Linked DNA regions of Homo sapiens: regions 1, 2, 4, 5 and 6 are each linked to region 3. The links come from fine-mapping of genetic effects on gene expression. A gene starts in region 3. Each other region holds a variant in brackets. All regions are shown on one strand. Distances are between the middles of the regions.

Region 1 (4,002 bases), 410 kb after region 3:
TGAAAACTCAAAACTCCACAGGAGAAAAAAAAATTCTCAAGAATGAGTATCACTGACACTAAAACTCCAAAGAATCCTTTAAGTTTTCCAGTTCAAATGGTCTCCACGAAATGCACAGTTGCGATGAAAGGGATAAAAACCATGGGAACTCCCAATATGAGAAGGTGTGATCAGGTGTAATTTACACAGTGTGAGATGATACATTCCATAGAAGAACATCTGAGAAATAGTAGCAAACAAACAGAAGCAGCTTCCTTGGATAAGTGGGACTTTAAGAACACAAAGGTGACCAGTCTAAGCGGTCAAGAATGTGTGATCAGAGCTGGCAAGTAAAAGTTAGATTATGGTCTTTGCCTTAAGAAAGAGTAGGTCTTTTGAAACCTCTGACATGATCAAATTGGCGTTTTTGTTTTGTTTTGTTTTGTTTTTGAGACGGAGTTTCACTCCTGTTGCCCAGGCTGGAGTGCAATGGCGCCATCTCGGCTCACTGCAACCTCCGCCTCCCAGGTTCAAGCGATTCTCCTGCCTCAGCCTCCCAAGTAGCTGGGATTACAGGTGCCCACCACCATGCCTGGCTAATTTTTGTGTTTTTAGTAGAGATGGGGTTTCACCATGTTAAGATGCAAAATTTGGCAGGTTGAATTGAGAAGATTTGAACAGAGAAAGCTGCTAAAATGATTTTCATTACCCCATTCAGCAAACAAGTGTTTAATTTATTTTAGTTGGCGTTAAATGCTACAAAGGAAAAATACAACAGGATAAAAGAATAGAGAGTAACGAAGTATTATCTTCATGGGAGTCAGGCATGTTCTCTCTGATGAGGGGATGTTAGAGCAAAAACCTAAGTGAAATAAGAGAACGAATAATGTGGATATCTAGGGAAAGAGCATTCCAGGTTGAGGGGAGAAAGTGTGCAAAGGCCCTGGGGCAGAACTTCCTGGACATATTCACTTAATAGTGAGGTTGTGCTGGGAGTGTGCAAAGGCCCCGGGGCAGAACTTCCGGGACATATTCACTTAATAGTGAGGTTGTGCTGGGAGTGTGCAAAGGCCCCGGGGCAGAACTTCCTGGACATATTCACTTAATTGTGAGGTTGTGCTGGGAGCAGAGTGAAGGCAAGAGAGAGTGGGAGAGTGAGAGGGCTGAAACCACAGGGAGCCAGAATCAGTCTTGTTAGGGCTTAAGATGAAGATCCAAGCTTTGCTCACTGGGGTATTTGAACCAAGGAGTAACATGAGCTGAGGCTACAGCAGTAATCCAGCAATGTGGAGAGAAAGGACTGGACCAAGAGGATGCCACTGGCAATAAAAGGCAGGAAAGGTCATGAGAGGCATTTGACAGGAAGAATCCAAAGGCCCTGAATACAGCTGAGGAAGGAGGGTGTTGGAAATCAAATTCAAGTGAGGATTAAAACCTGAATTCACATTTTGTGCAGTGGATTCTACTTCTAGAAATGTATCCTAAGGATATAGTCTCAGAAAATACATGTGCGAGAAAGTTTATTTTGGCATTGTTTGCAATGAGCATAAAGGTGGGAACAACCTAAATATTTGTTAGCAGATGAGCTATATTACAGTGCTCCCACACAACTGAATCCCGAACTGCCTTGGCAAAGCAACTGCAAATGTGCTATATATAAAGGAGTCCATGATGTAGTGTTTAATGCAGAAGAAATTTATAGAAGGGGTTGTGTAATATTACCTCATTTTTATTTTAAAAAGTATCCACACATCAAACACTATATTTCTTTGTACTTAAAAATATTTTTAAAATAAAACATAATGGTGATGAATGGGTGGATGAGTGGAAAGTCCATTGAAAGGGATATATATGTATATGTGTGTGTGTGTGTGTGTGTGTGTGTGTGTGTGTGTGTCTCACATGGGGAAGAGAAGGAAAGATAAAAGGATGGAAAATCACTTTCAACATTTTGAGTTTAAAGTGTCTATAGGAAAGGAATCCAAATAGAAGTGTCCAGTAAGCACCTGCGGCATTAAAAGTGAAGGGCTAATGAAAAGAAGAAGAATAATAATACCCCTATTTGGGGATGTCCTCCTAGAAAGCAGGCAGTGTGACACTGGTTTGAAAGTTCTAAAATAGAGAAAATATAGAGGAAGTAAAAGATCAAACCTCTGGGGTAGTGCTCAGGGAAGTAGCAATGAGTGACAAAACAATGAATTGGGGAGAAAACCTGTAGTAGGATGAGAACTGGAACAGCTAGGTGCACTGCAGTATCAGGGAAGAGCAAGTTTTGTGAATGAGAAAATGGTAAACAGCATAAAAGCAGGTGAAGTAGGCTGGGC[G/A]CGGTGGCTCACAACTGTAATCCCAGCACTTTGGGAGGCCGAGATGGGAGGATTGCCTGAGCTCAGGAGTTCGAGACCAGCCTGGGCAACATGGTGAAACCCCCGTCTCTACTAAAATACGAAAAATCAGCCAGGCATGGCGGCATGCACCTGTGGTCCCCGCTACTCAGGAGGCTGAGGCAGGAGAATTGCTTGAACCCGGGAGGTGAAGTTTTCAGTGAGCCAAGATTGCGCCACTGCACTCCAGCCTGGGAGAGAGCAAGACTCCATCTCAAAAACAAAACAAAACAAAAAACAAAAGGAGGTGAAGGAAGGAAGGAAGGGAAGAGGGAAGGAAGGAGAGGGAGGAAGGGAAGAGAGGAGATTTGTTAGTAGGAACATCACTGATGATTCTCAAGGTAGCAATTTTAGCCACCCACAGTGGGGAAAGTCCAGAAGAGGAACTGAATGAGGGATCGTCTGATGATGAAATGGAGGTAATGGGTATAAACGTGGTTCTTAACCCTAGCCTGACATTTTTATCAACTGAAAAACTTTTAACAACTACTGTGATCCAGGCCTCCCTCAGACTAACGGAATTGGAATCTGTCAAGCTGGGGGCTGGGCATCGAGTCTTTTTAAACTCTTCAGGTGCTACCATTGTGCAACTGGGGCTGAAAATTAATACAGAGACAAGGAAGTGACAGCAAATGGAAAGGGAGAAAGGGAGTAAAGACATAAAGGATGACACCAAGTTATGTTGAAAGGGACCAACATGCAGAGGAGCATTTTGAACACAGAACAGAGGAACCAGCGGACAGGAGGCATTGAAGATAATGGGACCGGCAGAAAGCTGACCATGGTGACTTTCTGTCACTGGACCTATAGCTTACAGATGCCTTGGGTTAGAAAAATCTGTTCCTGTAAATGCCCGAGTCTTGAAAATCGTTTAAAATGGAAAAGCTATAATGATCAGGGCTGGATATTATTATTATGGTAATTATAGGGATAATGTGAATGTTAGTATTTTACAAAATTAGATGCTTTACAAATCTTAAATATTTTAGCATTCTCAAGTATTTAAGTGGTTTTACTATAAAGTTCAATTAACATAGAGGGTAAGTTTAAAACCCAGAGTAAGAACATTATTCATGACTATGCTTTGTTTGAATGAGAAAAAATAATTCATTTATTGGCATGTTTTTCTGTTTTTGTTTTAAGTTTGGTTTTGGTTTTAATAAATAGTAAATATTGTTACCTTCATCTGTGAATGTGCTAATCCCATGAGGGTTAAATGAAGATACATCAAATTTACTTCCAGTGATCCCCAATTCCAACACTGTTGGATCTTCTTCATTCAGGTCCATCAGAAGTATTTTTCCAGGACTGTTGGGGTTGAAGCTCTTTATTCCAGGATACTTTAATCCCTTATAAACCATGGAGGAGAAAAATCAAGCACAATACCAGTACTTCAAATGCTAATAGAGGCGCTGCATGGCCCATGGGTTCATGTTGACTGCTCCAAACCACAGGGCTAGCCAGATGGCCACATAGGAAGCCTCTTAGTTAGCTTCTGTAATGGGTCCCCAGGAGAAGTCTTCTGGAAGCCACATGCTCCACTAGGCCACCCCACACAAACCCTTTCATCCCCTGCAGCAAAGTCATATGTGCACGACACTACAGCTTCCAGCCCATGAGAAAGATCAAAAATGGAAGAGCA
Region 2 (4,002 bases), 69 kb after region 3:
TTCAGGACCCTTAGGGAGCTTTTCAGATAAGTTTAGCTAGCATTTTTAAATTATTGAAAAAATGAACTCTTCTCTTAATTTGGAAAAAAAATACTGTGTTGCAGTCTTTAGAAGAATCTTAGTATATAACATACTCTGGTCTCAAAATCAAATAAGCAGTGACATTGTGCTATAACCTAAAAATTGATATGAATCACTGTGATAAAGGAAGTTTACTCTAGTTTATTCATAGATGAAGAAAAGTAGCCTGGTAGCTTGAAGCTGTTCTTTTAGCTTTGCTGCAGATTTATAAAATGTTCAACATTTCCATTTACCTCTGGACAGGCTGTAGTTTTTTTTTGTTTTTTTTTTTTTTTTTTTTTTTTTTTAAGGATTAAGATCCTTGAAGCTAGAGGTCTTTGAAACTGCATCTGAGTGGAAGAGGTCTAGTGTAAAGTGACTCATTCTTAAACATATTCAGAAATGCTGTGGGCCAAATTGAATCCCTTGAAATATAACCTGTATACACAGTTTCCAGAACATGAGCTAGTTGTGTTTCAGAAGTTTATGTGTAAGACAGCTGTTTGGAACTCAGAACACATTTTTTTTTTCCTTATTGAAGCAGTACAAAAATTACTGGCTATGTTCCCAGGCCAGTTCACAAATATTTTTCACCCAAATGTACTTTAAGTATTAACTGTACAATTTCCATTTATTGAGTTGATATTTTTGTTTCTGTGGGAAAATATATCCCAAATCAGTTTGAAAGAAATAGGTTATCTTTGCTTAGCTGGATTGGGGTCTTCTCAGAAGATGTCACTGGTCATTCATAAAAACCAGTAATTTATTAATTGTACATTTTTAACCCCTTCCTCTCAATTATAAAGGTACAATTTCAGGTTATTCATTCCCCTAGTGATTACTATTTTAGAAAGTAGCCCCGGTTTCTCTGTCTTCCTCTTTCTTTACTTTCTCTTTTCTCTCTAAATGTTGGGTCATTATTAAGTTTATGTCTCTATATCAGGGATTGTGTGTTCAGGTTTGGTTACAAAATGGTTAGTGCTCCTGTATTTTTTTTAGCCAGCATTGATTAACAGAGTTAATCACTTTCTGTCTTTAAAAGAGACTGATAAGGGCTTATGATATAAAGTTTATTTGGGAAATTATCTGTTATCTGTCAAGTATGGTGATGACTGGTATTGTACAGGACAGAAAACTAAAATACCTACTAAATTATTAATAACATAAAATAATACAAAAATTATTACGGCATTGTTTATTATGTTGGATTTTAGTTCTTTGGTGAGTCATGCATAATACATTATCTGTTATATTTAACATGTTTTATTCTTTTTTTTTTTTTTTGAGATGAAGTCTCGCTCTGTCACCCAGGCTGGAGTGCAGTGGTGTGATCTCGGCCCACTGCACCTCTGACTCCTGGGTTCAGGCGATTCTCCTGCCTCAGCCTCCCGAGTAGCTGAGACTATAGGCATGTGCCACCACGTCTGGCTAATTTTTTATATTTTTAGTGGAGACGGGGTTTCAGTGTGTTAGCCAGGATGGTCTCGATCTCCTGACCTCGTGATCCACCTATCTCAGCCTAACATGTTTTATTCTTAATGCATATTTTGTTTTGACTGGTTGTGGTTGGTGAATATATGTGTTCATTAAATAAAAGAGGTTCTTTTTAGCAGGGAGTAAGGCTGTTTTAACTTCAGCCTCAGGGAATGTTTTACTTTGATGGGATGGCTGTTATTTTGAATGGAATCAAGGATCTGGAATCTTTTATTTATTAATCATTCACTCTACATGTATTTATTGAGTATCTGCTTGGTGTCAGGCTCTATTCTAGGTATTGGGGATACTACAGTGACCAAAACAGACATGGTCCCTTCTTTATGTAGGTTATATTCTTGCTGGGGATCTAGAGAATAAATGAGAATTGAATAAGTAAGTGTGTGTTG[C/A]GATATATTGGGAAGGTAGATCCAACTTGGCTAACAGATTGGCTATGGTATATGAGAGTAAAGGATATCAGCCAGGTTTTTGGTCTAAACAGCTAGAATCCTGTAATTGCCTTTCCCTACAGTGGGGAAGACTGAAGGATATGGGGGCTTGTGGGAGTAAGAGGGGATCAAGGATATGGTTTTTACATATTAAACTTGAGGTGCCTGTTAGACATTCAAATTGAGGTGTTCGAAAGGCAGTTTAGGGGAGATGTCTGGGTTGAAGAGAAATTTGGCAGTTGTCACTAGAGAGTGAATATAGGAAAAGAAGAGATTCGAGTCACAAGCCCCAGAGCTCTCCATTATTGAGGGGCTGGGAAGACAAGGAATCAGCAAAGTAGACCAAGAAGAGCAACTGTGACCATCAAGAATAGCTGAGGTAGATGGTTCCCCAAAAGCCAAGTTAAGAAACATGTTTCAAGAAAATGGGGTGATCAGTTTTGTTAAATGTTGCTGATGGTTCGACTAAGATGAGAATTGACCATTGAGCAACATTGAAGACATTGGTAATCTTTGAATGGAGTCATTTTCATGGAGAGGTGGGACAAAAGCTTGAATGGGGTGAGTTCAGGAGAGAATTTAGAGGAGATAATTAAATTGAAGATTAACAAGTCAGACTGTTTATCAATCTGTAGACAATTGACAATGAGTTCCTGAGAGGATGGTTGGGATATGAGGCCAAATCAGGGGATATAGAGAATGTTATGGTGATAAGAGGCTAGGTGGTGAAGGATGACTTGGGTATCTTGGTCTTCTTTTTCATTTTCTTTTTTTTTTTTTTTTGAAATGGAATCTTGCTCTGTCACCCAGGCTGGAGTTCAGTGGCGTGATCTCGGCTCACTGCAACCACTGCCTCCCAGGTTCAAGCGATTCTTCTGCCTCAGCCTCCTGAGTAGCTGGGACTACAGGCACGTGCCACCATGCCCGGCTAATTTTTGTATTTTTAGTAGAGATGGGATTTCACCATATTGGCCAGGCTGGTCTTGAATCCCTGACCTCATGATCCACCCGCCTCGGCCTCCCAAAGTGCTGGGATTACAGGCGTGAGCCACCATGCCCGGCCCATCTTGGGCTTCTTGTGGTGACTGATATGAAGGGGATAAAGTGAGTGTTTAGCTCCAGTGTCTTCAAAGTAGATTGTGATGCAAAGCCTGTGAACGTTGAGGGATAGGGAATGGGGAGTGGCATAATTCTCCTAGGCCATAAAGTGATTTCTTATAAGATACCTAGCTAAGGAATAATCTAGGAGAGTAAATTGTTTCAGTTTACCTGAGATTGAATTGTACCAAAAAGCCAAATTATGGCTATCTACTAAATATAGAGCCTGCATGTTTTTAATTGATTTATGATTATAGAGTAGACTAAATTTTTATGTGACATGTAAATGGCTACTGAAAGAATAAATGCTTGAAAGACTGAATAAATATTACAGATTCTCCTTCAGTAAAGTTATGAAAGCCTGATAAATAATTCTAGGCATGATAGTATTTTTCCTAAAAACTTACTCCTTTTCTTGGAGGCTGCTTAAAAATTTTACATTGCCAATTCATTTCTCGACACTTTTTTCTATCTTGATCTTTTTTTTGTGGGCTGCATTCATTTTCATTCAGTGGTTTCTTCGCTGAGTGCTTTTCCCAAAATAAACACCAGTCATATTTAGAATGAAATAATGACCTAGTGTAAGTATTCTGAATACTGTTTCAACTTTTCAACATTTCTGAAAATTCTAGACTGATTTATTTTCCAGAATCCATTTAATTTAGATGTTCAGAGTAGTGCTTCTTCTTAAAACATCAACAGTTTTTGTTTTGTTTTGTGAGACACGGTCTCGCTCTGTTGCGCAGGCTGGAGTGCAGTGGCGTGATCTCAGCTCACTACAACCTTCGCCTCCTGGGTTCAAGCTATTCTCCTGCCTCAGCCTCCCGAGTAGCTAGGATTACAGGCATGTGCCACCAGGCCCAGCTAATTTTTGTATTTTTGGTAAAGATGGGGTTTTGCCATGTTGGCCAGGCTGGTCTCG
Region 3 (4,002 bases):
AGCCTTTCAAATGCGGCTTGTGTGACTAAGGAACTGAATTTTAAATTGTATTTAATTTTAATTAAAGTTAAATAGCCGCATGTATTGGATTAGCAGTCTAATAGACCCTTCAAACATTCAAGTAAGTGTTGGAAATGGAAGGTCCATTATAGGAAATCTAGGAATCTTAAATTCTCACCATCGGGTTTAAAACTCTATCATTCCTTCAGTATGAACTTTTCCAGAAGTTTCAGATTTTCAAAAGATAAAACTCAAACCAACCAAATCCTTTAGGGTGCTTTTCTGTATGAATCATCTTTCTGCAAAGAGGTGTAAGACTGTCTTTATTGCCAACTCTGCCCCCTCTTCTACAGACAGAACTCAGTGATTAGATTCTGCATTTATTTAGGTTATTCGCCTAAAAAACCTGGTTTCCATACTGCAAATAAATGACAGGAACTTTTCCACTAGATTATCCCAGACAGCAGAAATGTTCTTTCCAAAAGTGGAGCCTGGAACCACAGCCCCCTCACATTGCCTGTTACATCTGTTTATGCTTATAGAAGTGACATCCACTTCGTAGACAGAGAATGCCAATTTCTTGGGAAAGGACCCAGAATTTGGTGATGCTTAAAGGAAAAAAAAGCCCTTGCTGCTTAAAATTAAAAAATACATAGAACTGAGTATTGAGTAGTTACAAAATCCTTCTGAAATGAAAAGATTTTGCTCCCAGAGTATATAGAATTTGTGTACGGACTTGCCTGGGTTCATATTCAGCCATAATCATTTACTATTAATAGCCAATAAAGAAGCGGGTAAGTTACAAAACCTAAACCTTAGTTTTTCCATCAGTGAAATGGGGCTAAAAATAGTTATGTTGGGAAAACTTGTGAAAGACTTTGAAATGAGCAAAAGATTACTGTTTGTCCTTTCAATGGAATGCTGGATGTTATCTACAGGACTCCGGAGTGTTGTGAAATTTACAGTCGTCTGCACCTTACTTAGACTGACTTTCACTAGGCTATTTTACTACTCAGTAAGCTGTAGAAACGTTTGGTAATGTAAATGAGTTTTATCTACAGAATGCAAATTTGTTACTTTACAGATACAACTGGTTACCGCCCTGTAAAGCAGATAATAATAAACATTACATTTCAGTGCTCTATAGAATAGTAAGCAGATTTGCCTCTTCTTGCCTCTATGTCTACTCTTCACAGTCTCACGTGAATGGGTTGCAGTATCTTGCTGGGGTTCCCTTCCTAATTAAAAGAGTTATAAAAATTTTGACCAATGTTCATTTTATATTTCTACCATTGTCATGTTTTTACCTTCTTGAAAAATTATTTTTTAAGAGTTCCTGCTCCCTAGGCTTTTTGGAAGGATTGGTTTAAACATCTGTATTGACAGTCATGATCAGTTTTATATCTTGCAGGAAGGTGGTAACACTTCCGGTACTTGGGGGTGTAAGAGGTTGTACTGAGCCTTTAGAAAAGGGCGGGGTTCGGGGGGGAGTGAGCTGAAAAACTCTCCCTAGACAGGAAAGGTAGAAGACCTCCTCATCCCTTTCTCTTTGGCAGTGAGATCTTAAGGTCAAGGTGAGTAGTAGGCCAGGCGCAGTGGCTTAGGTGAAGGCCACACCAGACTTGGGCCTACGTCTTGGCCTTCCAGGTCAGCAGAGTGGCCTGGGACTTGGATGCCTTGGGGTCACGGAGTTAACTGCAGACTCAGACTAAGTGGGGCCCCAGCAGCGGTCAGCCCCAGAACCAAGTTCCGGAGCCAACACCCGAACAGGAAGGGGCCTTGCCCCAGGCCGGAGAGGCCCCTCGCCCACGGCCGAGGGGGTGGGGCGGCCTCGCCTCGGGCCGGTGCTTTTCGCCCTTCCTTGGCCGCCAGAGGCTCCCTCTCTCTCCCTCTCCCGGGATTTTGCTGCCGGGCTCCCTCTCTCTGCGGCCCTAGAGTTAATCCCATCAGCCGAGGTGAGGCACCTGTTACCCCGGCCTTCCTCACCCCCGCGGCCTCTCCTCCATTACACCGCGGCCGCCGAAACGGCCCGGCGTGGCGACCGCACGTGGGCCAAACCCCTTCCCCGGCCGGCACCCCTGGCCCCAGGCCGGCCCGAGCGTGCGGGCGCGTCGCTGCTCGGGCCGCCGCCCGCCCGCAATGGCGTTGGGGAGCGCAGCGCGCCTCCCGGGGCCGCCCGCCGCGGGCAGGGAGCGCCTGGGGGCCGACGCGCGAGTGGAAGCGGCCGCCGCAGCCGCCCTACGCGCTGCGCCGTGAGGAGCGGGTTGCGGTGTACCCAGCGGGCCGGCGCCGAGCCGAGCCGCCGCGTCCACCGTGGGGCGGGGGGCGCCTGCGAGGAGGGGGTGGGAGCCGCGGCGGCCCGACCCTCCCCGCCCGCGGCGCTCCCGCTCGGGTAAGGGGGAGGCTGAGCGCGGGGCGAGGAGTTGGGGAGGGTGGAGAGGAGGAAAAAATCGGCTTGTACAAAGGCTGAGTTGCAGGCTGGGGGTGGGGGTGGGTTGTGGTGGAGGAGCAATAGGTTGAAGATCGGAGGCATTATCAGTGGGATCTATTGTTTCCTGGCACATTGGGAGGAAAAACAAAGGGATTTATTTTCATTACCCTGTAATTTTTTTTCTTTTCTATTTTTTTAAATGTGGCCAGGGAGCTCGTCTCTCTCCGTGTCACAGTGGGATCCGCCTGGCAGCCGCCGGGAGCTGCAGCCAATGTGTTAGGACTTCAGGTGCTTCTTGGCACAAAGCTAGACTGCGACCTCCTACCATAGCGCTTGGCGTCACCTGCTCTCCCGGTCCTGCCCCAGGGCCGAGGGATTGCGTCCCGAACCGGGCTTGGGAATCGGCTGCCTCTCAAGTTGGTGTTATTTATGTTTGTCTTTTGTGAGGGCAGGTTTTGAATCCCCCGGCGGCCCCATCTCCCCCGCCCCCGCCTCCTTGGGTTGGAATTGGCGGGGGAGGGAATGGGGGGTGTGTGTAGGGGAGAGGGGAGGGTGTTTGTGGCTTTAAAAAGAATGGTCAGGGTAAAAGGAGATTGTCGATGCTTTACAAAAAAAGAAAAAAACAGGCACCACACTCCAAAGCCTTTCTTGTTTGTCTGCATGGGCCATGCATGCGTGCTGGGCCAGGAGCCGAGTTTGGAGACGGTTTAAGTGAAAGTGTGTGCCTCCTCAGCTGATTGTGCGTGAGGGTGATGTGGCTCGGTCTAATATCAAAACAAAACAAAAATAAAATGAAAAATCTTTAGAACTGCCTGCATTGTCTGCTCCTCAGCATATCTTGAAGTATTTGATTGCTGGCTTATTGATATAAAATCCTGCTGTGGGCTTAAAGAGACCAGCAAGCATGCATTGCGTTGCGTGTTGAACTGTAGTAAGTTAGAGGCAAGAAAGAATAAACAAATCAGGGCTGTGAAAAGGGGTGTCACAGTATATTTGCTTTCTGATTGTCACATTCTTACGCATTTATTCCCTTGGTAGTCTGCATCCCACTCCATAATTAATAATAACCACTGTTAGGAAACTTCCAAATACTTGTTATAACTGAACTTAGTGAAACTTATTGCTATTCAGGAACTTTTTTTCTCCTTGTTTTGATCTGAAATTGCATTAGTATTGCTTTGGGGATGCTGTAGATGAGAACATTGGACCAAAAAAAGTAAAATATGCCGCTGTAGGCATGTTTTGGAGTTTGTAAACATAGATTCCAAACTTAATTGTACTTAGAAAGAATAAGTTCTACCTAATTGTGGAGAATCCTAAATGAAGTTGATTTTCTGGACAGTTTGATGATTTCTTAAAGATCGATGAACTGCTGGTTTCTTTTTAAAGGGCATTCACAAAAGCGACCAAAACTTGGGCTAAAGTATTGCTTTCAAATATACTTATGTGTAGCTTGTATTTGTGAGTGTGTGTATGTGTTTGTGTGTGTGTGAGATTTTGATAGGTATCTCCAAATTGTGTTTGGAACTTTTTTTTTTTTTTTTTTACCAAAGACCAATCAGAATGATAAC
Region 4 (4,002 bases), 390 kb after region 3:
AGCAGCCTGGGTATGTTGGCAGATTTTGTTTGCATTTGTCTTGCGTATTTAAAGTCTCAGGAAATCTAGTCTTGGTCCAAAACACTGGAGAAAAAAATAACACCAGACAAAACACATTTGAGTAACTTGAAGTAGCAGCATAGAATAGGCCCAACTAAGAAGTTGGAGGGGCAAAGAGAAAGCCGACAGAATCAGCTTCTCCTGGAAAGTGAAAGCATCAAGTTCTATTTATGGTAGACAGAGGGTCCTTATTTGCTTGTCCGTGGTGTCTATGTGGGCCTATTGAGGGAATGGTAGTTACTTGAAGGTTCACATATGTAAGCGTGTGGACCCAGCACAGTCTGTGACCTGATTCCAGATCCTCAAGAGTGGAGAAGGAAAGAAATATGATGATTTCCTATGCTTGACCCTAACCCAACCCCAAAACTGCTAGGGATTCAACAGTGAGTAAGATGTATGCAATAAGAGAACAGATAACTTCTCAACAATGTGCATGCCGTTTGTGTAGATGTTCAGAACTACATATGTGTGAATATCACTCCCACCTTACACACGCACACACACTGCAATCACATGGCATTAAAAAATATATTGTGTATGGAACTTGGCGAGGTCAGTCAGGACCTGGAGCTGTAATCATAGCCTTATTGCCACTTCTTGCGTTGTGTATACATTGAATGGCTCATAGATTTTAAGAGATTTTTTTATTGTAAGTATTTCTACTAAATGCACTTATCCTTCTATATGTTTATATATTTTGGTAAAATTGATTTATCAGATACTTGGTATTTTAGTAAGAAAATTTCCTCAAATATTTGGCTAATGCTTTGATGTCAAGATTGCATATTGCTGAGTTGGAGCTCAGAAGAAATGTATGCAGCTAAAAATTGCACTGTGTGTTCTTGTGAATTTGCTCACAATTCTAAAATGACATAATTGGTGGCTGTGATGCTTACAGTCACTGCCTACTGGCTCTCTTATGATGAATGTTGCCATCATATGATCATTTATTTACTTTTTGTGCAAGCAATGGCATTTTGGTTGTTGCCAAAAACAACACAAGTGGTTGGGAGTGTATGTTGTTGGAAGGTGTACACTTCTGTTTCTTTCAGCTGTATTATTTATACACCCAGGTTTTCTGTTAAGGATGTAATCATTCATTCAAGAAAGAACAATTGGCAAGAAATAATTAAATTACCTTAAAAAGAATTAAGAGGCACTCCAGCCAGATAACACCTCCCAACAACATGAAATTTAGTTAGTGCTTAGTGAAATTCCTTAAATATATATGTATATGTTTTCTTCAACATTATTTAATATAACTACTGCTTTTATATTTTTTAATGGTGTTGCAACCACTTGTACACCTGCTACACCTTACTGACAAAACTGGGCAGCTGAAAATAAAAGAGAATAAATTCTATTCCACTGTAAGAAGTTGATTTCTTTTCAGCTTTCTTTGTATATCAGTAAAGAACACGAATTGTTTGAAAATAATTTTAAGTCTGATAAGTATGGATAGCATGTTACCTAAGCTTTTAATTTGTACATTTTGATGTCTGATCATTTGCATGGAAGAGACAATAGTGCCACGTCTGAATTGTTCTCTTGTGCTTGGTTAATATGTACTTCTCTAGATTGTTCAAAAAGTTTCAAATGACATTCCTTACTCTTTGGTTTTCAGAGGCATTCAAGCAAAATATCACAGTGGTCTTTTGTTTTCTGACCAATCTAACAATACCTGTGATTAAATTTAATTTGTTAGTGTAAATAAATTTCTTGCCAATGAGTATTATTGTTGTTAGACAACGAATGCAATAAAAAGAAATACTGAGGTCTGTTGAAGCAATTTTTTTTCCCTCTTCCATTTTCACCTTCAACTAAAACAAGCCTTGACTGGGTAAACCTGTATCAATTGTCAAAGCATATATCTGTCAATCA[A/G]GAGCAAAGTGCACATTTTTCATGGAAATGAAACTAAGTCTTAACTGTGGTAAAGTGTAAATTGGCAGCTAGAAATTACATTTGAAAGCACAATTATGGAACTGGGCATAAAGTTAAAAGAGCAAAGCCTGCACTCGAAGCTTCCTCGCCCGTCATTTTGTTCCCCTGTCGCTGCTTCACCATCAAAGTCTCTGATATCTCTCAGCCAGGAAAACCTCTGTGACAAATCCATTAAGTAGTCAGTCTCACATAGCGAGGGGCAAGCTAAGGAAGAATCAGGACCATCGTAGAGTATGGGGTTATTTTAAACAATATTCTTTCTAAAGCCTTAAAAATAAGTGAGGGCTATTAATTTCATTCATTCTTACACACGCAAACTATAATTTATATGTGACTAAGCCTATGTCAGTGCGAAAATTTAGATCTGGGAATCACAGAATACATGAATTAAGCTGTTTTCCTCTTTTTCACAATGTATGTTATGAAATTTCTAACCAAGCCATGTCCCTTTTTGAGTGATCTTGAGTATGTGCTGTGTCAAATTGGATAGGCTTTTGTTTCTTCAGTGGAATTTGCTTATCTATCATCAAGAACAAGAAAGAACAGAATGTGGTCATTTTATTGAAGATGTTAGGGAGCCTAACTACTCAGGAAATTCTTTCTTTCTAAATAATGAAATATGTTGGGGGTGTTCCCTAAGCATCACACTCATTGATAATTTCAAGACAGTCTTTCAGAGAACCCAGCATCCTGGGCTGTGAGCAGCATCTCAGAAAAATTGAGCCCATGTAGGGCACGGGATATTATGTCACTGGAATCATGAGTAACTCCAATCTTGCTGTGAATAAAGTGGTTTTTTGACCCAAACAAAATGTTCCTGTTTATTACTTCAAGTCAGTGATTCTTAAACAACTGTTGGTGGTTCTCAATTTATTGGCAAAACATTTTCCCGGAAATGCCAGACTATCATCATAACAAGTGCCTTAGAAAAACTTCGTTTCTGGCTGGGTGTGGTGGCTCGCACCTGTAATCCCAGCACTTTGGAAGGCCAAGGCGGGTGGATCACCTGAGGTCAGGTGTTCGAGACCAGGCTGGCCAACATGGTGAAACCCCGTCTCTACTAAAAATACAAAAATTAGCCGGGCATGGTGGTGTGTGCCTGTAGTCCCAGCTATCCGGGAGGCTGAGGCACAAGAATCTCTTGAACCTCGGAGGTAGAAGTTGCAGTGAGCCAAGATCGCACCACTGCACTCCAGCCTGGGCAACAGAGTGAGATTCGGTCTCAAAAACAAAACAAAAACAAGAAAAAAATTTGTTTCTAAAGTCACTGCCTTAACACCCTGAAGAAGTAATTCATCATGAAGGTTATACCTTCAAATCAGAAAAACAAATAAATGAAAATGTGTAACCTTTATATATCAGTTTCTATAACAAAATGATAAAGTCATGTTTTCTTCCTAGTCATGTCTCAGTAGATAGCCAAAGGGGTTGTTGATCTTTTCTATTTATTTGTTTGTTTACCTTTCTATTATTTTTTTTCTTTTCAGCCTCCACAACAAGAAGTTTAAATATTAAACAAAAACCCACCAGCACTACCACCACCTCAACAACAGTGTAGTCTTTGGGGACACTTTTAGCTTCGCCCATGTCAATTATGGGATTCATTCTGTATCCAGTCATCGAAGTGAACAAACTTCCTTTAACCAAGTCAAAGACACTCAAATGTACAATTTGTGCCAAGATCATAGAGACTCATAATTTTCAGGTGTGACAACACTCCCAAGAATTTTAAGATTTTCCTATGTGTCATTGCAACAGGAGAATTGAAAAAGCAAGAGTACAAGGGGAGTTGGAATAATTCAGGTTAATATTTACTGAGAAAAAGTCATATATCGAAGGGAAAATGGGAGTAAGTAAGTCTGACTGCCATAGTCAGACTTACTATGTGCATGGAGTAGAGGGGAACTTCATAATGCATATGTTTTCTGGCCTGTGAACTGGAGTCCCTGGGTGAGTACTGGAGTTCTAAAGACACGTGAGCTAACCCTGCTCCCCTGTGTC
Region 5 (4,002 bases), 270 kb after region 3:
TCAACTACTTTTATGAAGCCAATGTTGCTATGATAGTATAATTTTTAAAAGGCATTAAAATACAAACTATCACAAACCAATATTCCTCATGAATGTAAATACAGAAGTCCAAATTGGATTATAAATCCAATAGCCAGGTGACATTTATTGTTTGAATGTATGGTTGATTTAATGTTTATGAATCAACCCATGGAATTTTTCTTACTGATAGGATTAAGGTAAAAGTCATTTGTTCTTCTCAATAGATGTAGATTTTTTTAAAAAAGCTCTCAGGAAACTTGAAATAGAAGGGAATTTCCTCAATGAGATAAATAGGATCTTAGTGAAGCCTGCAACTAATAACATTCTTAATGGTGAAAGACCTAATGCTTTTCTCTTGGTATTAAGAACAATGCAAATATCTCTACCCTCACCACTTCCATTCAAGATTGTACCAGAGGCCATAGCTAATTCACTGAGACAGTAATAACTAATTGAAAGCCCATAGAATGAAAAGGAGGAAGTAAAACTCTTTATTCACAGGCAATATGGTCATTTATACACAGATGACCATGAAGAAAATCCTAAAGTATCTACAAAAGATGCTACTTGAACTGATAACTGAGTCCAATCATGTTATAGAAGATGAAGTTGTCCAATCATGTTACAGAAGATGAAGTTGATGTGCAGAAATCAGAGTGTATATACTATCAACATTAATAATTGAAAATTCAGATTGAAAATAACATTGATGACAGCATCCAAAATATTAAATACTTAAAGGTAAATCTAACAATATATTGCAGACTTCCACACTTAAAACAACAAAATATTGCTGACAGAACACAAAGACAATTTAAATGAGGGAAGAAGTAGACCATGTTCAATGTATTATAATATTCAATATTGTTAAGATTTCAACTTTCCCTAAATTAGTCTGTAGATTAAACATAACCCTAGTAAAAATTTTAGAAGATTATTTTGTAGATGTTATTGTTAAAAAAAATTTCGGAGGACTTTCCCTGCCTGAAAGCATCACTAATCAAGGCAATCTGGTTGAGGTATAAGAATAGTAATATAGATTAATGGATCAGAATAGAACTTTGCAGTGCAGACCTGCGCAGATATGAAGAATTGATTTTTTTTTATAAAGGTACCAAGGTAATTCCGTGGAGGAAATTATAGTTAACTCAAAAAATGGGGCTGAAAAAATTAAATAGTCTCATTGAAAACAAAATACAAACCAAAAAATGCCTTGACCTTCATCTCACAGTATATATAAAAATTAACTTAGAACTGATCACAACCCTAATTGCAGCAGCTAGAACACTAAGATTTCTAGAAAACAGGCAAAAATCTGTAATTTTAGATTTAGTGAAATAACTCAGGAATAGAAAATCAAATACCTTATATTCTCATATATAAATTGGAGCTAGACATGGGTATCCATGGACATACAGAGGGAAACGCTGTAGGTAATATACACTGGGGACTCTAAAAGAGGAGAACTGGAGGAGGATGAATGTTGAAAAATTATCTGTTGGGCACAATGTTCATTGTTAAGGTGATGAGTATGCTAGAAGCTCAAACCCCACTACTA[T/C]GCAATATATCCATGTAACAAATCTGCATATATACCCTCTAAATGAATGAAAAAAAATTTTTAATGCAATATAACAATTTAAAAATTTTTTTAGGGCACAAAAGCAAAAAGTGTAAGAGGAAATAATGATAAACTGCGTCAAAATTTAAAACATTTGTTACAAAATACCCTTAAGAAAATGGAAAAACAAGCCACTTAAGAAAATGGAAAAACAAGCCACAGAATGAATATCTGTAAAACAATTTTCTGATAAAGAACTCTTGTAATTCAATAAGATTATTATAACAACTATATAATGGAGTTTTTAAATGTGCAAGTCCTATTAAAATGTACAAATCACTTAAAGAGACAGTTCATCAAAGTAGATATACCATTAAACATGAAATGCTGCTTAACATTATTAGTTATTAGGGGCAGGTAAATTAAATCCACAATGAGGTTCTACTGTACACCTGCTAAAAAGGCTGAAATTAAAAAGACTGATACCACTATGCATTGATAAGCATATGGACTGAGGTTCACATTTATTTGCTGATCGGAATGCAAAATAGCACAACCACTTTGCAGAACAGTCTGGTAGGGTTTTCCAAAGTTAGGCATACACTTATACCAGCTAGCAATTCCGCACCTCGGTATTTACTCAAGAACAATAAAAACATATATTTATATAAAGACTCATATTTGCATATTCATAGCAGCTTTTTCATAATAACTAAAAACTGGAAACAACTCAAGTGTTCTTTAACTGATAAATGGATATACAAATTGTATTATATCCCATATAATGAAATATTTCCCAGTGATATGAAGGAACAAACTACCAATCCTTTCAATACCATGTATGACTCTCAAAACCATTATACTGAGTAAAAGAAGCCAGATGCCAATAGCCTGTGTACTGTTTGAATACATTTGTATAAAATTCTGGAAAATACAAAACTGTGCTAATAGCAGATCTATGATTGCTCAGAATCACGAAGGGAGGGAATTGTCTGCAAACAAGAAGGAAGGACCATTTCTGAGGTGATGAAAATGTTCTATATTGTGATTACTGTATTTCTTACACAACTATGTATACATTTATCGAAACTCCTCAGATTATACAACTTAAATTTGATCAATTTTAATGTATATAGATTGAACTCAGTAAAACTGAATTTTAAAATGTGAGATAATAGCTATCGTTAACTTAAAAAGCACCATACGAATTGATTATTGTTGATAGTGATAGTGATGTGAAAAGGACTGTGTCTCTTTAACAAAGGCAGATGTAATCAATGTGAATTTCATTAGCAATCTCTAGATTTTATGGTTCTGTGTACTTTTACTTTTAAAATATTATTATTGACTTTTTACCAGAAAATATTTTCTGTACAATTTCTTGCATCTAATTTTTTTATCAAACATGAATTTGCAACATAATTTTTGAAAACTCATGTTTCTTGAGTCTACAGCTATAAACAGGACCTTGCCTGTCTTGTTGACCACTGGCATAGTTGGTGTACCTATTGTTGTGTAACATATTACTATAAAATTCAGTGACCTGAAACAACTAACTTTTATTACCTCATGGTTTCTGTGATCCGCTTCCCAGCGAACTCATTTGGGCCCCTCTGCCAGGCCTCTCACAACATGAAAACTGGCTTCTCCAAAAAGTCATACAAGAGAGTGCCCAAGATGCAATCTGCCATCTTTTTGTAACCTAAAATCTGAAATGACATCCCGTCAGCTCTGTATTTTATTTGATAAAAGTGAGTTAATATGTCCAGCCTACATGCAAGGATAGATAATTACATTCAGACTTAAATAAAAGGAGTCAAGGATCACTTGGGTCTATGTTAGAGGCAGCCTATCATAGTACGGATCAATAACTAGTTGGATGGATGGATGGATGGATGGATGGATGGATGGATGGATGTGGAGGGATGGTCAGTCAGGCAGACAGATGATGGGCAAATAGATTAATGCTATACCACAATATAATTTAATTTATGTTGCATACCCAACTTAATCCTGAAAAACTTGAGACTATTTAGGAAAGATTGACCAGGATGGTGAGAGGTATAACTATTTTCCTTCTATATATAAAAGTTAAAATATTCTATAACCCTTTGCCTTTAAAAAAAAAAAAACTTAAAAGACATGGTAATAATTATAAAGCATTTGAAAAAGTGAACTCTGGAAAAAGGATTAGATTTTTTTTTAACTCCAGACAATCATTCTAGTACTGTCAGCAATTTGGCAAAATTTGATATAAGACAGAGATTTTGTTTCAATTTGAAGAAATTTTCAATGATTTATATGTTTGCTCTTCAGTGTCATTCACATTAAACTTTAAATGCTTTCAAGAAACTATCTGCTACCCATGATCAATAACTATGCATTCATTTCACTTTTATCCCTAGCATATGGGTTTAATAACT
Region 6 (4,002 bases), 25 kb before region 3:
CCAGTACATCAGCATCGGCCTGGGGATCACATTTTCATCAAAGGGTGGGAAGAAGGGAAACTTGAGCCAGCCTGGGAAGGACCTACCTTGTGCTACTAACCACCGAGACTGCTGTTCGTACAGTGGAAAAGGATGGACACATCACACCTGAGTCAAGCAAGTGCCATTATTATCAGAATCATGGGCCATTATTCCTGGATCAAGCCCTACCAAATTAAAGCTAAGGGAAGCTTAGTCTATCTATCTTTTCCTTTCCTTTCCTTACCCGGTGCTTACATCCGTTACTATTCCTAACCCTAGCAACTCTAACCCCACTTTAGAGCATTTCTGTGTTAGGAGCAGAAGTCACTGGAAAAGATCCTATAGGCTTCTTTAAGGTGTGCTTTGTTCTCCCTTCTCCACCTCCTACAGCTGCCCCTTTTCCAAACCTACGAAGTCAAACTATGACTCGCCTTATGCCAAGTGACAAAAGCAAGGTCTCAGTAGTAAAAATAGGAAACCTAAGGCAAACCATAGCCATTGAAACGGGGTATAAAGCCGTAAATGCCTGGTTAAAATGGATTAAATATTCCGTCCATACGTTAAACAAAGGCAATTGTTATGCTTGTGTGCACAGCAGGCCAGAGGCCCAGATTGTCCCCTTTCCACTAGGGTGGTCCTCCAGTCGACCGGGTGTGGGCTGCATGGTAGCTCTTTTCCAGGATTCTGCAGCCTGAGGTAACAAGTTGTGCCAAGCTCTCTGTCTGCTATATCCCAAAGTTTGACACCCTGAGGGTCAGCCCCCGAGGGCTATCCAGCTTCCGTCTCTCAACACTAAGTTCATTTTATGTCCCTCACGACAGGGAGGCAACTTAGTGTTCCTTGGAGACCTGAAGGGATGCAGTGACCTTAAGAATTTTCAGGAGCTTACCAATCAATCAGCCTTTATTCATCCCTGAGCAGATGTGTACTGGTATTATGGCGGACCTTGACTGGACACTCTGCCAAGTAACTGAAGTGGCACTTGTGCTTTAGTCCAATTGGTTCACCCTTGCATTTCATCAGTCAGAGAAAGGAAAAATAAGACATCGTAAAGCAAAAGAAGCCCCTTATGTGTCTTTGTCTTTCGACTCTCAAGTCTATTTAGACACAATTAGAGTCCCATGGGGAATACCAGATCAATTTAAAGCCCGAAATCAAACACCTGCAGGATTTGAGTCAATATTTTGGTGGGTGACAATTAATAAAATGTAGATTAGATAAACTACATCTATTAAAACCAACAGCGATCTGTTAACTACACTAGAAATGCTGTTAAAGGAATAGCTGAGCAATTAGGGGCTACTAGCCAGATGGCTTGGAAAAAATAGGATAGCCTTAGACATGATATTTGCAAAAAAAGGAGGAGTTTGCATCATAATTAAAACTCAATGTTGTATCTTCATCCCAGACAACACCGCCCCTGATGGAAGTATAACAAAGACATTGCAAGGTCTGACTGCTCTGTCCAATGAGTTAGCCAACAACTCAGGGTAAATGACCTCTTTACAGGATGGCTAGAACAATGGTTCAGTAAATGGAAAAGAATAATAGCCTCAATTCTTACTTCACTCACAGTCTTAATGGGTGTACTTATTCTTGTCGGGTGCTATGTCACACCATGCATCTGTGGGTTGGTGCAGAGGCTCAAAAGAATGGCACTTACTAAAACCTC[A/C]CTTAGCTATCCTCCACCTTATCCAGAGAAGCTTCTTCTTTTGGAAAATCAAGCAGAACAACTAAGCCAAGACATGTTAAAGAAGTTTGAAGAGAAAGAACTGTAAGGAAGATGCAAGAGGAGGGAATGTTAGATATGAGTTCTAAATTTCTCTTCAAAGAATCAATATGTCAGTATGTTCAATTCTTTGCCTTCTACTTTTAAACTTTATTTCCTCATAAAGCAACATTTTTCGGTTACCTGCTCCACCCTGACTCATTCCGATTACCTGCTCCTCCCTGACTCATTCTGATTACTTGCTCTGTCCCAACTCATTCTGACCACAGAATGACAGAGAAATGATGTTAGCTTTCTAAAGCTCTAAGGAGGAGTTCAGGAGCATATTTGCCTATTATCAGAACCTAGAGTAATTAGTATTTAAGTTTCTTTTTTTAGTATAGGACAGTCCCTTTTGCAATGTCCTGACCTTCTACTACATTATCTACAAGCATTTTGAGATGAATTTTGAGATTGGTAAGAAACATAGGTGGGCTTTGCATTACCTCTAGAGCTGCATTTCTGTTTTTGTAAAGACTCAATTAGTAAGACAAGAACTGTTGTTTTTAACTCTTGAAAGAATTGGTTGACAAAATCAATGATAACCTTGCCTGTCCATCCAACTACACACTACAGATGGTCCCTGACTTACTGTTGATGGCTGTTGTGAATCCTAGGTTCTTGTCTTCTTAGTTTAAAAGAATTTCAACAAAAGACACACAGCAAGGGAGATATTGCATAGAGCAATTTATTGCAAAGGAGAAAGAATACTCTGAAAGTTAGGTTCAGAATAGACAGTATACCCTAAGAGGCAATTCAGAGGGGACTGCTCATGAGGATGAGACAGCATTGACCATTACTAAGGAAACTCCCTTTATGGAGGCTTACATGATTATTCATAAGGGGGTGGGAAGAGGTTGCTAGGAAGCATGTTTTGGGTGGTCCTCTGGGTGCACATGCACAGTAGCTGTACATGCTTGTTTATACATCACATGTCTCATTAATATTTTAAAGCTCCACCCAGGGGTGTGATTTTTACTGTTATAATAAGCAAAGGGTCAGTCTGATGACTGGTCAAATCACAATGCACATGCTCTCTACAGGGGAGGTTTCCTACTGGAGATAGTTTTGCTTGAATGAGCTTGACTACAATGCAAACACTGGGCTTATTGGGGCGGCATTGTTGCTGAATCCTGAGGACATAGTTACTTTCTTGACTACCTGGTTACTATCCTGCCTCATTACAATGTTTCCATTTCGGATTTTTCAACTGTATGATGGTGTGAAAGTCATACAGTCAGTGGAAACTGTACTTCAAGTGTTGAATGATCTTTTTCAGGGCTAGCAATATGCTACTCTTGTGGTGTAGGGCATCAACAGCAAGTGTCAGCACCCAGTCGGTCACACAATCACAAGGATGACCACAACTGATACTCCACAGGTGAGGAATAAAGAGAACTTTCATCTGAGGAATATGAGCCCTTTCCTATTATTAGGCCCAGAGAGGCATTAAAATGAGACAGCAATCACTCCCTCCTCCACCTTTGAGCTATGTATTCATCTCTTGAAACTTCTGGCTATTGCCACAAGTAGCTATAAATTAGCCCAATAATGCCACAGTGGACACGCTAACCCATACCCTATAGCTTAACAATGTACAATCACTAATCAATGTTATTTCTATAAACCAATGAGAATTTCTGAACAAACAAATTTGTATCAGCCCGCTCCCTGTGCCCATCTTTTTTTTTTTTTTTTGCCTTTAAAAATCCACTTGTAACTGCTACTGATCAGAGTGTATATTCAGGGCAATCTGAATCTATGCTCCTGTATTGCAATCCTCAAGGCTGGCCAAATAAACTCTACTTATATTAATTTTGCCTCAGCTTCTTCCTTTTATTTTATTTTTTTGAGATGGAGTTTTGCTCTTGTTGCCCAGGCTGGAGTGCAATGGCACCATCTCAGTTCACTGCAATCTCCGCCCCCTGGGTTCAAGTGATTCTCCTGCCTCAGCCTCCCGAGTAGTTGGGATTACAGGTGCCTGCCACCATGCCTGGCTAATTTTTTGTATTTTCGGTAGAGATGGTGTTTCACCATGTTGGTCAGGCTGGTCTTGAACTCCTGACCTCAGGTGATCCAGCCGCCTCAGCCTCCCAAAGTGCTAGGATTACAGGTGTAAGCCACCGTGCCGGCCAGCTTCTTCCTTTTAGGTCAATATAAGGTACTTTGTTGACAGATGATTTTGCCCAACTGTAGGCTTATATAAGTGTTCT

Alleles and levels. Positions count from the first base shown, and alleles are read on the strand shown. Sizes are in standard deviations (SD) of each study's normalised expression. Not every link is listed here.
With allele C in place of T in region 5, the expression in atrial appendage of the gene that starts at base 1,847 in region 3 is higher (small effect, 0.15 SD a copy in GTEx).

What was found. PIP is the estimated chance that this variant, and not a neighbour inherited with it, causes the effect. A credible set is the group of variants that fine-mapping cannot tell apart.
Region 1: its variant is the best candidate, but not a certain one, in a credible set for the expression of PPP1R9A in whole blood (TOPMed, PIP 0.58).
Region 2: its variant is the best candidate, but not a certain one, in a credible set for the expression of PPP1R9A in tibial artery (GTEx, PIP 0.73).
Region 4: its variant is the best candidate, but not a certain one, in a credible set for the expression of PPP1R9A in lung (TOPMed, PIP 0.65).
Region 5: its variant is the best candidate, but not a certain one, in a credible set for the expression of PPP1R9A in atrial appendage (GTEx, PIP 0.65).
Region 6: its variant is the best candidate, but not a certain one, in a credible set for the expression of PPP1R9A in nasal epithelium (TOPMed, PIP 0.55).

The regions. Positions count from the first base shown.
Region 1 is chr7:95,311,782-95,315,783 of GRCh38, forward strand. PON1 (paraoxonase 1) reads right to left here. Exons shown (of 9, transcript NM_000446.7): 4 at 3,541-3,709. Among named protein-coding and RNA genes, the nearest start is that of PON1, 11 kb to the right of the region's middle. The variant G/A (reference allele first, on the strand shown) is at 2,304.
Region 2 is chr7:94,975,016-94,979,017 of GRCh38, forward strand. All of the region lies in intron 2 of PPP1R9A (protein phosphatase 1 regulatory subunit 9A), which reads left to right. Among named protein-coding and RNA genes, the nearest start is that of PPP1R9A, 69 kb to the left of the region's middle. The variant C/A (reference allele first, on the strand shown) is at 1,944.
Region 3 is chr7:94,905,748-94,909,749 of GRCh38, forward strand. PPP1R9A (protein phosphatase 1 regulatory subunit 9A) reads left to right here and starts at 1,847. Exons shown (of 20, transcript NM_001166160.2): 1 at 1,847-1,955. RefSeq lists an enhancer at 1,904-2,664.
Region 4 is chr7:95,294,567-95,298,568 of GRCh38, forward strand. PPP1R9A (protein phosphatase 1 regulatory subunit 9A) reads left to right here. Exons shown (of 20, transcript NM_001166160.2): 20 at 1-1,834. It overlaps PON1 (paraoxonase 1), which reads right to left. Exons shown (of 9, transcript NM_000446.7): 9 at 3,110-4,002. Among named protein-coding and RNA genes, the nearest start is that of PON1, 28 kb to the right of the region's middle. The variant A/G (reference allele first, on the strand shown) is at 1,942.
Region 5 is chr7:95,171,802-95,175,803 of GRCh38, forward strand. The region is part of intron 5 of PPP1R9A (protein phosphatase 1 regulatory subunit 9A); the gene reads left to right. It overlaps PPP1R9A-AS1 (PPP1R9A antisense RNA 1), which reads right to left. Exons shown (of 4, transcript NR_183324.1): 2 at 3,146-3,288. Among named protein-coding and RNA genes, the nearest start is that of PPP1R9A-AS1, 41 kb to the right of the region's middle. The variant T/C (reference allele first, on the strand shown) is at 1,580.
Region 6 is chr7:94,881,086-94,885,087 of GRCh38, forward strand. No RefSeq gene overlaps it. Among named protein-coding and RNA genes, the nearest start is that of PPP1R9A, 25 kb to the right of the region's middle. The variant A/C (reference allele first, on the strand shown) is at 1,694.